Regions from separate parts of the Homo sapiens genome. Here region 1 is reported to be linked to region 2. The links are microRNA targets in miRTarBase. Many come from high-throughput screens and were not tested one by one. Region 2 holds a microRNA gene; the other region holds the end of a gene's coding sequence.
What was found. Region 2 holds the annotated microRNA hsa-miR-3614-3p (UAGCCUUCAGAUCUUGGUGUUUU, at 2,282-2,304, shown strand). A microRNA usually pairs through its seed, bases 2 to 8, with sites in the 3' UTR of a target mRNA and lowers its output. Matches are read on the target gene's strand: a 7mer-m8 pairs with bases 2 to 8, a 7mer-A1 pairs with bases 2 to 7 and ends in A, and an 8mer does both.

Region 1: miRTarBase lists ATP9A as a target of hsa-miR-3614-3p. Seed matches in the 3' UTR shown: 7mer-m8 at 4,319-4,325.

What each region holds. Positions count from the first base shown.
Region 1 is chr20:51,596,529-51,601,902 of GRCh38, forward strand. ATP9A (ATPase phospholipid transporting 9A (putative)) reads right to left here. Exons shown (of 28, transcript NM_006045.3): 28 at 1-4,819. The coding sequence ends at 4,683. Among named protein-coding and RNA genes, the nearest start is that of NFATC2, 56 kb to the left of the region's middle.
Region 2 is chr17:56,888,270-56,893,584 of GRCh38, reverse strand. MIR3614 (microRNA 3614) reads left to right here and starts at 2,230; the gene lies at 2,230-2,315. It overlaps TRIM25 (tripartite motif containing 25), which reads left to right. Exons shown (of 9, transcript NM_005082.5): 9 at 1,356-5,315. The coding sequence ends at 1,885.

The DNA.
Region 1 (5,374 bases), not on the chromosome of region 2:
CCATTTATATCTATCACCTTTTGAAATTCTGACACGTCTGGGATGGACAATAGTACAAAATAATAAATAACATGCATTGATTTGGGGTTTTTTTTGCCAAAATCAAAATAATTTTCTGAACTGGAAAGAGTTTTCTTTACATTTCATGTACCATGAAATAAAGAAAAAATAGGAGCGTTATAATAAAAAGTCCTCATTTTGATACCAGAATTCATGTTTCTGTACAAATTAAAATAATCCCCCAAGGCAGAACGTACACAAGCTTTATTGGGCAACAGCAACGAGCCACGCTGGCAAACAATGAAAGTAGAGTCGCTCAGAAACACGAAAGATCATATGTGTGTCATCACAGCATCGAGAATTTAAATCATCTGGAAGTTCCTGCTAAATTAAAGCATACTGTGCCAGAGCTCCCCTCTAATCAAAAAACGCTGTCCTGGTGAAAATTTGCAATGAGGATTACAGAGAGAGAGATCAACCAATGAGGAAATCACAGACTCTTACATGAGTTTACAGTTAACCCCACTGCAACAAAATAATAAATTAGCCATAATTTGTTTTTTTTGCAAATACCATGCCCCCCACCTGACCCCACAAACACAACAGTCACTGACATGGCCCAGCTATATTAACAGACTGCGCCTCAAACCATGCTGTGGCGGAGAAGACAGATTCACGGGTAATGCCGCTTTGGCCTGAGAAGATGCTTCGGAGCTCCAGGTGGAGGAGCTGCTCACGCTGCAGGATGCTTTGCAGGTTCATTCAAAACCAAATTTTTTTCCAAGAAGAACTGGACATAATTCATGGGAATATTTTAAGTATATATAAGTGGCAAAAAAGCTGTACATTAAAAGAAGGGGGAGAAATAAAATGTGTTGTATTTACAAAGCTCTTTGTATATTTTTTTAAATGAAAACAAAGCTGGGAGTGATAGAATTTTAATGCAATGAAAACCAAATAATTCTTCAAAAAACTTTAGATGACATCATTCTCTCGCTCTTTCACACACACACACACCCCCCACACACTTCAAACATACAGAAAAGGTTAAAGATAAAAATAGCTGATAGGTGTTTAAGTAGGATGGAGCAGAAGAATGTACATGTCCCATTTGCAATTTTGGCAAAGGTTTAAAATGCTGCCCTAAAGGCACGCACGCATGCCCAGCCTACCCCAGTAAAAACAAGACAAAGTATAAAAAGAAAAGTCTGGCGGGGGGTGGGGGAGGCATTAGCATATCAATTTCCAATGAGCACAAAATTCAAAATACATTAAAAAGTAGCATGGCTTACATTTTCAGCAGAGAAGAAACTGAGGAAATGTTCATAAAGAGACAATGATTTTTAAGATTTACTGTCACAAAAAAAAAAGGGTTTCACTTCAGGGGAGTGGAACTGGGATGGGAATTTTACAATGCTAGTTCCAGCACGTGGTCTAATGGCCCCAGGGGCTGGAAAAGGGAGGTCTGCTCCAACTTTAAGATGCGCCCTTGGGATGCCTTCCAAGCAGCTGGAGTTAGTGCCACCTGTCTCACCTGGCACCACAGGCAACACACATGTGCACACGCATGCTTTCAAAATGAGGATCAAAACTGTCCCACATAAGAAATTACTCAAGATGGAAAAACTAGTCTGGTGATTTTCTTAGAGAAAAAAAAAGAGAGACAAAAAGGAAGGGGTGGGGGGAGGGGAAGAAACCAAATAGATCCTGCTTCCCCCTGTCACACAACCATCATCAAAAGACATATGAACAATAATAAAATAGTAATAGAAGTTCTTACTCTGGCAGAAATAGCTAGTGTTGTCAGAGGGCGCAGGGAGCTGTGAGTTTTGCTTTCAGGAAAAGTGTTCAAACAGTGCTGACTGTGTACCTCAAGGCCCTCTGACCTCAAATTAAATTGGCTGTCAAAGACTTACGGCCCATGGAGCTCCCAGGTGACAGTGTCAATGGCGCTTTATGTAAGTTCTTTCCAGATTGATGAACCAAGAAAAAGGTCAACTGAATCCTTATGCTTAAGGTTTACAAACTCAGGAGAGTTTCTTGTATAGTAACTCTAGTTTCTTGTTTGCTTATTTCTTTGTCTTCCCCACCACAACTAAGATGACCTCCGAGAAGTACCCAGGCGCCCCTGGGGTTCTCTGCTGGGCTTACAGTCTGATTGTGCAGGTAAAGATCGTGTCCTCTCACCGGACTGCATCCTCCTGCCTTTGCGTCTCCAGTGTCTGAGAAGCACGGTGTGTGCATTCCTAGGTGTTCAGGGACCGTCCAGTGAATGGCGTCAGCCAGCTGCCCACTGATGGGATGGGCCAACGACGTGGCAGTTTGCACTTGAGTGTCGGTACTTCTCACCCTTGACCGCCTCCGCCCCAGTGCGGCTGAGACAACAGAGTAAAAAGGTTTGTGGAGAACACTGACGAGTACCTTCCACTTCCAACTATGGCTTCTTCAGCCCCTCCTGGGAGCATTCTCCCTTGAAGATGTCAATCAGTATCTTAAGCGTTGGCTTTAAAAGTCAACTTGTGCACCTCAATCAAAATTGAGAATTAAGGAAAAGGCCAGGGAGACCATCTTCATTCTGCTTCTGCTGGAAACCTCTAAAACTTTCTGACGAGGCTCCCACACGCCCTGCCTGCAGGAGCCAGCATCCCGAATCTCCGAGCAAAGCCAGGTACAGGGTTTGCAAAGTCTAAACAGGACTATCTTAAGACTTCCCAGCGTTACAGAGCCAGGTTCAGCATCTGCAAAGTCTAAATGGGACTATCTTAAGACTTGCCAGTGTTACAGACTGATTTCCAAGAAAACGGAGGCTTAAAAACTTCCAGCACAAATTTCTCCTCCACCTTTGAAAACACAGAAACTCACTCAATGAATACGTCAGATTTGCTCAATCTTTCTGAAATTTTTGGACAAAGATCCTATCCTTAACTATTCACTCAATACATCTTTTCTGCCGACCTTTTCCCTCTGGCAGAAATGGCTGAATCAGATAGAGAAAAGTACTGCAAAACTGCAGAATCATAAGACAAAATAGATGTGGTGTCAACAGCCAATTAACCAGTACCTGCAACGTAAAGTCATTCTAGAACATTTTAAAAGGACAACACAAAATACAAAAGCTTATCAAGAGTGCTCCAAAGGCAAGGGACTATCTGATCCTCGTGTCTCCAGCTCTCCAAGAGCAGGAGTTAGTAGGCATCAGAAACCAGGCTGTGATGTACATCTCTGAAGCACACAGAAGTAGCGCCAGGCAGAGGGTTTGAAGGATATGTATTCATCAAGAAGTAAACGCAAATCCAAGATCTCAACCACACTTGGCTCTTAAAGATCCACCAACTTAACCCTTATGGCATGCATATGTGGCTTCTGCAAGAAGCAACTTGAAAACCCAAGAATGCCTTGCTCTACCACGTCCCGCGACTGCAAACTCCCTTCCTCTGAAACAAGCAGCCACAGCTTTATAAGAAACATGCCGGCATGTAGTCCATCCTGGGAGGGGAGAAATCTTCACCACTGGCTGCCTTTCAGCAAGTTCCCCTTGAAATCTGCCGGCAGTGGAACAGATCCCAGATCCCAACGCTGTAGCTTGGGCGTCCTCCCACCAGGGGTTCCTTGTTCTGAAAGCTGCCACCAGTGTTGTTCCGAAAGATGCCTCTGCCTTTGTGGGGTCATCTTCCATTATGCCTCCTAACAGGAAACAGGCTTCTATGGAAGAGAAGAGTCCCAGCCCCCTGACCTTTCCGCTTTGGTCTTGGAGGATCTGAGTCACATCTGCCATGTTGCCTAAAGAATTAGTTGAGTCTCTTATCACACTGTCGACACATTTAGGGGCCATTCAGTGGCACGTTTCCTGCTAAAACAACTCTGCTGAAAATGTCTGAGGTCCTTCTCAAACAGCCACTGGCTTTGTGATTGTTACCAGGTCCCAATAAAGCGGGATCACACCTCTGAAATTCTTTTACGAGGTGGCAGGTGAAGTTAACTCACACACTATGGATGCTGAATCAGATCAAGGATAACAGATTGGACTTAGGACACTCTCTCTCCCTCTCCTCTCATTTACTGGTTACGATCCCAGGAATCCAGTGTAACCTGGATAAGCAGGGCTGGCTGGAGACGATACTGAGCATTTCCGAATGGAGATTATTGTGTGGATAACTTTTTACCAAATGTCACTGTCTTTTCCTCCCAAACCGACACCAAGAGCTTTCTATTTTTCTGACACCTCTTTGTAAGAGCAAGAAAGACATAAAGAGTACATACACATTAGGACTCTTTAAAAACACACACACACACACACACACACACACACACACACACAAGCCTTCTACAACCTTCAGCTACACAGAAACTTTTATCATGTGACAACAAAATTCAAGTCATAAGGAAGCTCGCACAGTGACCCATATAAATCTCCCAGCTGAGCCACCAGCTTTAACATATTCATATTCACCTAAACATGAAGAACGAGGGGTTCAGACAGGCCCAGATGGGTCTCTTTCAGGACCCTCCCTCCCGTTGATGCAGCGTTAGGACTCCGTTTAGGCGCAGAGCCACTTCCCATTAAAACTGCATGTGTTAGCAATTACTGCAAAATCCACAGGTGGCGGTTAATATAAATGGAACTTGAGCTCTGTCCATCAGGGAAGCGCCAAGACCAGGGCCCCCTCCAGCGAACGCACGGCCTATGATGTGAGCTTTGAGTAGCTGGGGGGAGAGAACCGTCTTCGCAGGTACTTGAGGACATAGAGGGGGAGGCAGCTGACCAGAGTGATGACGGAGACTTTCCACAAGAATGACAAGGTGGCGATGAAGTACACATCTGCAAGGAAAGGGGAAGACGGCAGTGAGCAGGCAGGAATATTCCGGAAGGTGCATGGGGTCCAGAAACAGGCGTCACAACTATCAAAGGGAAAGTCATCTCCCGTCACAAACCCACAGCCTCCTGGCATTGGCCCTCTTTCTCCATGGACTGTAAGGGAAGGTACCATGGCTAAGAGCACACAGCGCCGCAGCTTGATTTTCCTCGCTCTCTCTTCTGTAGCTTCCTGACAGTGAAATGCTACTTTTAACACCCAGGAGAAGAAAACTATGGGGGCCACCAGATGCAGTGGCTCATGCCTTAATCCCAGCACTCTGGGAGGCCAAGGCGGGCAGAAGAATTGAACCCAGGAGTTTGAGACCAGCTTGGGCAACACAGCAAAACCCTGTCTCTACAAAAAATACAAAAACTAGCCAGGCATGGTGGTACATGCCTATAGTCCCAGCTGTTCAGGAGGCTGAGGTGGGAGGATCATCTGAGCCCGGGGAGCTTGAGACTGCAGTGAGCCAACATTGCACCACCGCACTCCACCCTGGGCAACAGAATAAGACACTG
Region 2 (5,315 bases):
GCCAATCACTGAAAAATATAGCCCTTCCTTTATCATAAGCAGCTGCAGCAGGCTTGGTGGGGATCTGTGGGTCCCTTGCTTTTTCAGGGCTGGCCTTCTTGTAGCCCTCCGCTGTCCCTGCCCCCCAAGAGAGGCCCAGACCAGCCCTGGGCTGCAGCTAACTCTTGCCCAAGCTGCTAGCGGCGGTGCTGAGCCACGTCTTTCAGGAGCTGCTGTGCACTCTGTGGCAGCCGCATAAACAGGGAAAGTAAAATTCTATCAACTTAGGGCCTTTTCCACCCCCAGCTTATTCATTTTGCCTTGGGGGAAACTCGGGCTCCAGTGAAAAGTGTCATGCCCTGAGCCACCTAGCAAATGAGTGCCTCGCTTGGCTCCCTGCTGCCCACCAGTTAAAGTCTAGCCTCCTAAGCCCTTCCCTTTCTAGCCCCAACATGTTTCCCTTCTCCTGCTGCATCTGTGTTCCCAGCCACCCAGCTTCCCCGATCCCAGCACATGCGAATCCCCTTGGCACTCCGTGGCTTCACTCTCACTGTTCCCTCTGTCTGGAACAGCTTTTCTCTCTCTGTTCTCCTCTGTCTAGTTCTCATCTTCTGTTACTTGGCTCCAATTCCAGCCTGCCAGTGAAATGTTCCCCAACTGTAGCATCAGTTGCCTTGTCTCTGTGTCCCTACAGTGTGTGCTTACCCTTTTGGCAGAGTGTGAGTCTCATGGTGTTGTTACTGATGGACTTGCCTTGCTTGTTGGAGTGTGAACTCCATGAGGCCCGGCACCTTGTCTCTCTGGTTCATGGTTGTGCATCTTGTGCCAGAATCTGGTGTCAGTCAGGTGCCTGGTAAATGGTTTTGGATGGATGAATGGACAGACATACGGATGACTGATAGATGATAGATGGCTGGCTGGCTGGACAGAATGGATGGATGAATGGATGGATAGATGAGCTGATGAATAATGGATGGGTGGATAGATGGGTGGATGGATAAATGGACAGATGGATAGATAAGTGGATAGATTAATGAATGAATGAATGGATAAATGGAAAGGCAGAAGGATGGATAGATAAGTGGATAGATGGATGAATGGAAGAATGGATAGATAGGTAGATAGATGGGTATATGGATACATGGGTAGATGGATAGATGGATGGATGGATACATGGATGGATTGATGGATACATGGATAGACAGATAGATGGATGAATAGACAGACAGATGGATAGATGAGTGGATGGATGGACCAATGGGTAGATGGGTGCATGGATGGATAAAACTAGTGAATAAATAGTACCACTTTGGCAAAGGTCTAAAAGAGCACTTTGGGCCCCTTGTAATTAATTCCTTGGGGTGATGTTTTCTCAGATTACATTAAAGTCATCCTGGACTACAACACCGCCCACAACAAAGTGGCTCTGTCAGAGTGCTATACAGTAGCTTCTGTGGCTGAGATGCCTCAGAACTACCGGCCGCATCCCCAGAGGTTCACATACTGCTCTCAGGTGCTGGGCCTGCACTGCTACAAGAAGGGGATCCACTACTGGGAGGTGGAGCTGCAGAAGAACAACTTCTGTGGGGTAGGCATCTGCTACGGAAGCATGAACCGGCAGGGCCCAGAAAGCAGGCTCGGCCGCAACAGCGCCTCCTGGTGCGTGGAGTGGTTCAACACCAAGATCTCTGCCTGGCACAATAACGTGGAGAAAACCCTGCCCTCCACCAAGGCCACGCGGGTGGGCGTGCTTCTCAACTGTGACCACGGCTTTGTCATCTTCTTCGCTGTTGCCGACAAGGTCCACCTGATGTATAAGTTCAGGGTGGACTTTACTGAGGCTTTGTACCCGGCTTTCTGGGTATTTTCTGCTGGTGCCACACTCTCCATCTGCTCCCCCAAGTAGGCAGGCTGTAGGCACTTGGGCTGACTGCCTGCAGAAGTCCCAAGACCCTAGTGAAAATACAGCAGGCAGAACTCTCCTTGGATAATTCCCCAAGAGGTCCCAAGGATTGGGAGCATGGGAGGGGAGCTGGCGGGAGGGTGGGAGGTGGGATTTAGCCAGGAAAGGGGTGAGAGTGATTGTGTTGTGGGCGAGGAGGCGTTTCCACCCCCTGGTGCCTATCAGGGCAGGGTGACCTACTCCCCATTGTTCTGGAAATCTCCAGGCTGCTGGGCAGCTGGGCAGAGCTCTGGGAAGTGAAGTCATGAGTGCCCGATTCCTCTTAGAGAAAATCCATAGCTACTGTAGGTTCTGTCTTGGGCCACTTGGATCTGAAGGCTGCCCCTTTGCTCTCTGGGGTAGCCTTCAGATCTTGGTGTTTTGAATTCTTACTATAGATGTTTTTAAAGTTCCAAAGTCATTGAGTTTCAATGTTACATAAACTCCATTACCCGCATGTTGGGGCTTGATCTCCTGGTTATTATCTGTGCTTGAGGAAACACCCACAGCAGTCTCTACCCAGAACAGTTTCCTAAAGAGGCATACCCTCTTCCTCCACTGGAAAATAGTGCGTTCCCTTCCTACCCTGCACACCCATCGCCCCCACATTGATGGTTTTCAAACAGCAAACTTTTCAGCTAAAGCTTCAAACCATGATTGGAATCAGCCTGTGTTGGATTTGTGATTCAGGGTCATGGTGACCCTGATCCAGTTTGGGTGGAAATCCTTCCTAAGTATCATAAGAAGCATCTTGGCAGAGATGCTTTGGTGGCAGCCATGAGCTTTGCTGGAGGCCTTGCTTCCCATAGCCTTGGCTGTGGGGCAAGGAACTCTGCCAGGCGAGGGGGATGCTGCCCTGGATCAACAGAAGCCTGGTGGGTTTGCTCGTGTTAGAGTGTCCTGCCTTCTTACTGACAACTCTTCTCGGTGATAGCCTCTCTTCCCTGGATTGTGACATATGGAATGACAGTGCAGGTACCACCGAGGCTAGCACAGTCAAGCCTCCAGCTAAGCTGGATCCCTGAAGCCTGCTATCATGCAGACAGGCTATGCGGCTGCCTCGGACCATGCTAGGCCACTTGCTGGGGTGTCAACCTACCACCAAAGGGGTCTTTTAGCAAACCTCATGGGGAACAGGAACATTCCTGTTCATCCCTGGCCACAGGCTGCAGACCCAGCACTGGCCCTTGCGTGAGTCAGAGCCTGGGGCTGGCCCTAGCCCCTTCTACTGACTTCCTCATTTAAGCCAATTATATAAGCTCACATTGATCAGGGAGGGAGGGAAAGAGCTAAAGAGGGTCACACAAGTGGCTATTTTCCCTGCAGTGTTTCTGTGTGGTGAAAATAACCCAGTCCACTAAGGGGCGGGAGTGAATGGATGGCTGGATTTTCCCCAAGCTCCTTATAGCCTAATGTTGTCAGGATGTGAGTATGAGGAATTTAGCCTCTTATAGTGAAATGAGTCCAACTCTGGGCTTTGCTTAGAGGAGAGCTCCTGTCAGGCTTCCTATAATATGAAAAGAAGTCACCATTGGGGAACTAGAGACCCCAGACCTTTTCATATGGATATTTGAGAATGTAATGCATCTCAGGCCTCGTGCTGGAACTCTAGGGCACTCTAGGCAGGCTCAGAACACTTGATATTCCTGACAGCTACACACCTGACATGCAGGTACATACCTGATCGGTGTCATCTCCTAACAAGGATTTTCAGTTCCTCGGGAGAGCAATAATCTTTGTAGGAAAGACATCCCTGCAATAGGTGATATGTGGTCCTTAGAAGTTTTATTCCTTTACTACTTGGAAGAAAAGTTCTTTGGTGATTCTTCTCTGCTTTTGAAGATGATCAAAAGCATCTTCATTGATTTTCTGAAACGAAAGCCTTGTCTGAAACCAATTAATACTTGGGAAACAGCTGGGCTTGGAGGAGTAGAATGCCAGAGATAAATCCATGGCTCCTGCTCTGGCTCTCTTCTGCAGAAATGAGGGCAACAGTGAGGCCACTTCCCTGGCAAATGTGCAGCTCAGGATAGGGAAGCATAAGACCCTCTGTTTAAAAGAGAGTCAAGTAGGTAACCAAAGCCAAGCTCTGTGCAAGGTGCTTTGGAGTTGTAAATTGAGGAGTGCATCCTTGCTGTCTTGAACCATTCTGTTTGCAATGGTGAGACCTTACATAACCTAGCCTTGCAGGGCCGCCACACAACCCTGGAGTCCTAGAGTTGGAGGAACCTTTGTATCCATCTGACTTCTCATTTTGCAGAATATGATGAGAAAGTAGAGGATCGCTCTGTTCACCACTCTTGCTATTCCATTAGTGGGGAGATGCCTGCTAGCATGTGTGAGGGGAACACTCTGATACACTGGGAAGTATCGGAAATTCCCAGAAACACAAACATAAAATAACTCTCCTAGACCCAGGTACTGGGGACTGTCTCAGTCCGTGTGGCATGATAAATAAAAGGTTAGGATCAAGTCTTTGTATTTTTCAAGATGTGGTAGCTGATTATTCCTGTTTTAAGTACTCTGAAATTGATCTGTGATCAATAATACTAATATGTTATCTTTTACCGTATTCTGCCTCTCACTATTGATTTTAATTAGTTAGGAGTATTTGAGCTGTTATTTCTTGAGCTTAATATTTTTTTAGAGTTAACTCTTTAAGGAGATAATCATGGCTGTAGACAAGGCCAGGGCTGGCTGACGTGCCTTAGAAGGTTTGAATGCAATAAAGCGGTGTTTGGCGTTCTCCTGCATTGTAGTGCGGGTACAAAATGCTATTTGTTCGTCATACTGTTGTCAGCAGATGAGCCGCCCACTACAGACGGCTACTGCCCAGGGACCTGCCCAGGCCCCACCCAAGGGCTCCCAAGGGTTGAGATTTCTGCAGACCTATAGCCAGCACACTTAGTCCTGCCCTATATAGAGTTCCTCTTCGGGAAGCTTTTGATAAGGAATTCTCAGACCGATAGGATGTCTGTCTGGGCTTTGCTGCGGGACAGTCTAACTGTGGGGGCTAGGGGAAAGCAGGAGAGTATCGATCAAAGAGTAAGCCACACACGGATAATCAGTTACTAGGGATGGAGGTGTGAGGGTTCATTATATTATTCATTTTACTGTTGTATATGTTTGAAAATGTCTATAATAAAAAGCTTTAAAAAAAAAAAAGAAACAAAAATAGTTCAGGCCAGCAATGGGCCCTCCATGTTCAGTGGATTTTATCCTTGTTTCAATTGGGGTAGGAGTTCCAGGAGGTGTGGATTGGAGGTTGTCTAAAGAATTGAACTGGCCTTTGTCCCTGCTTCCTGGGAGGGAGACTTTCAGTCCTTGACATTTCCAGGGTAATAGGAGTGTCTTTGTTATTTGTGAGGCCATGGGATCACACCTGAGCTTATGC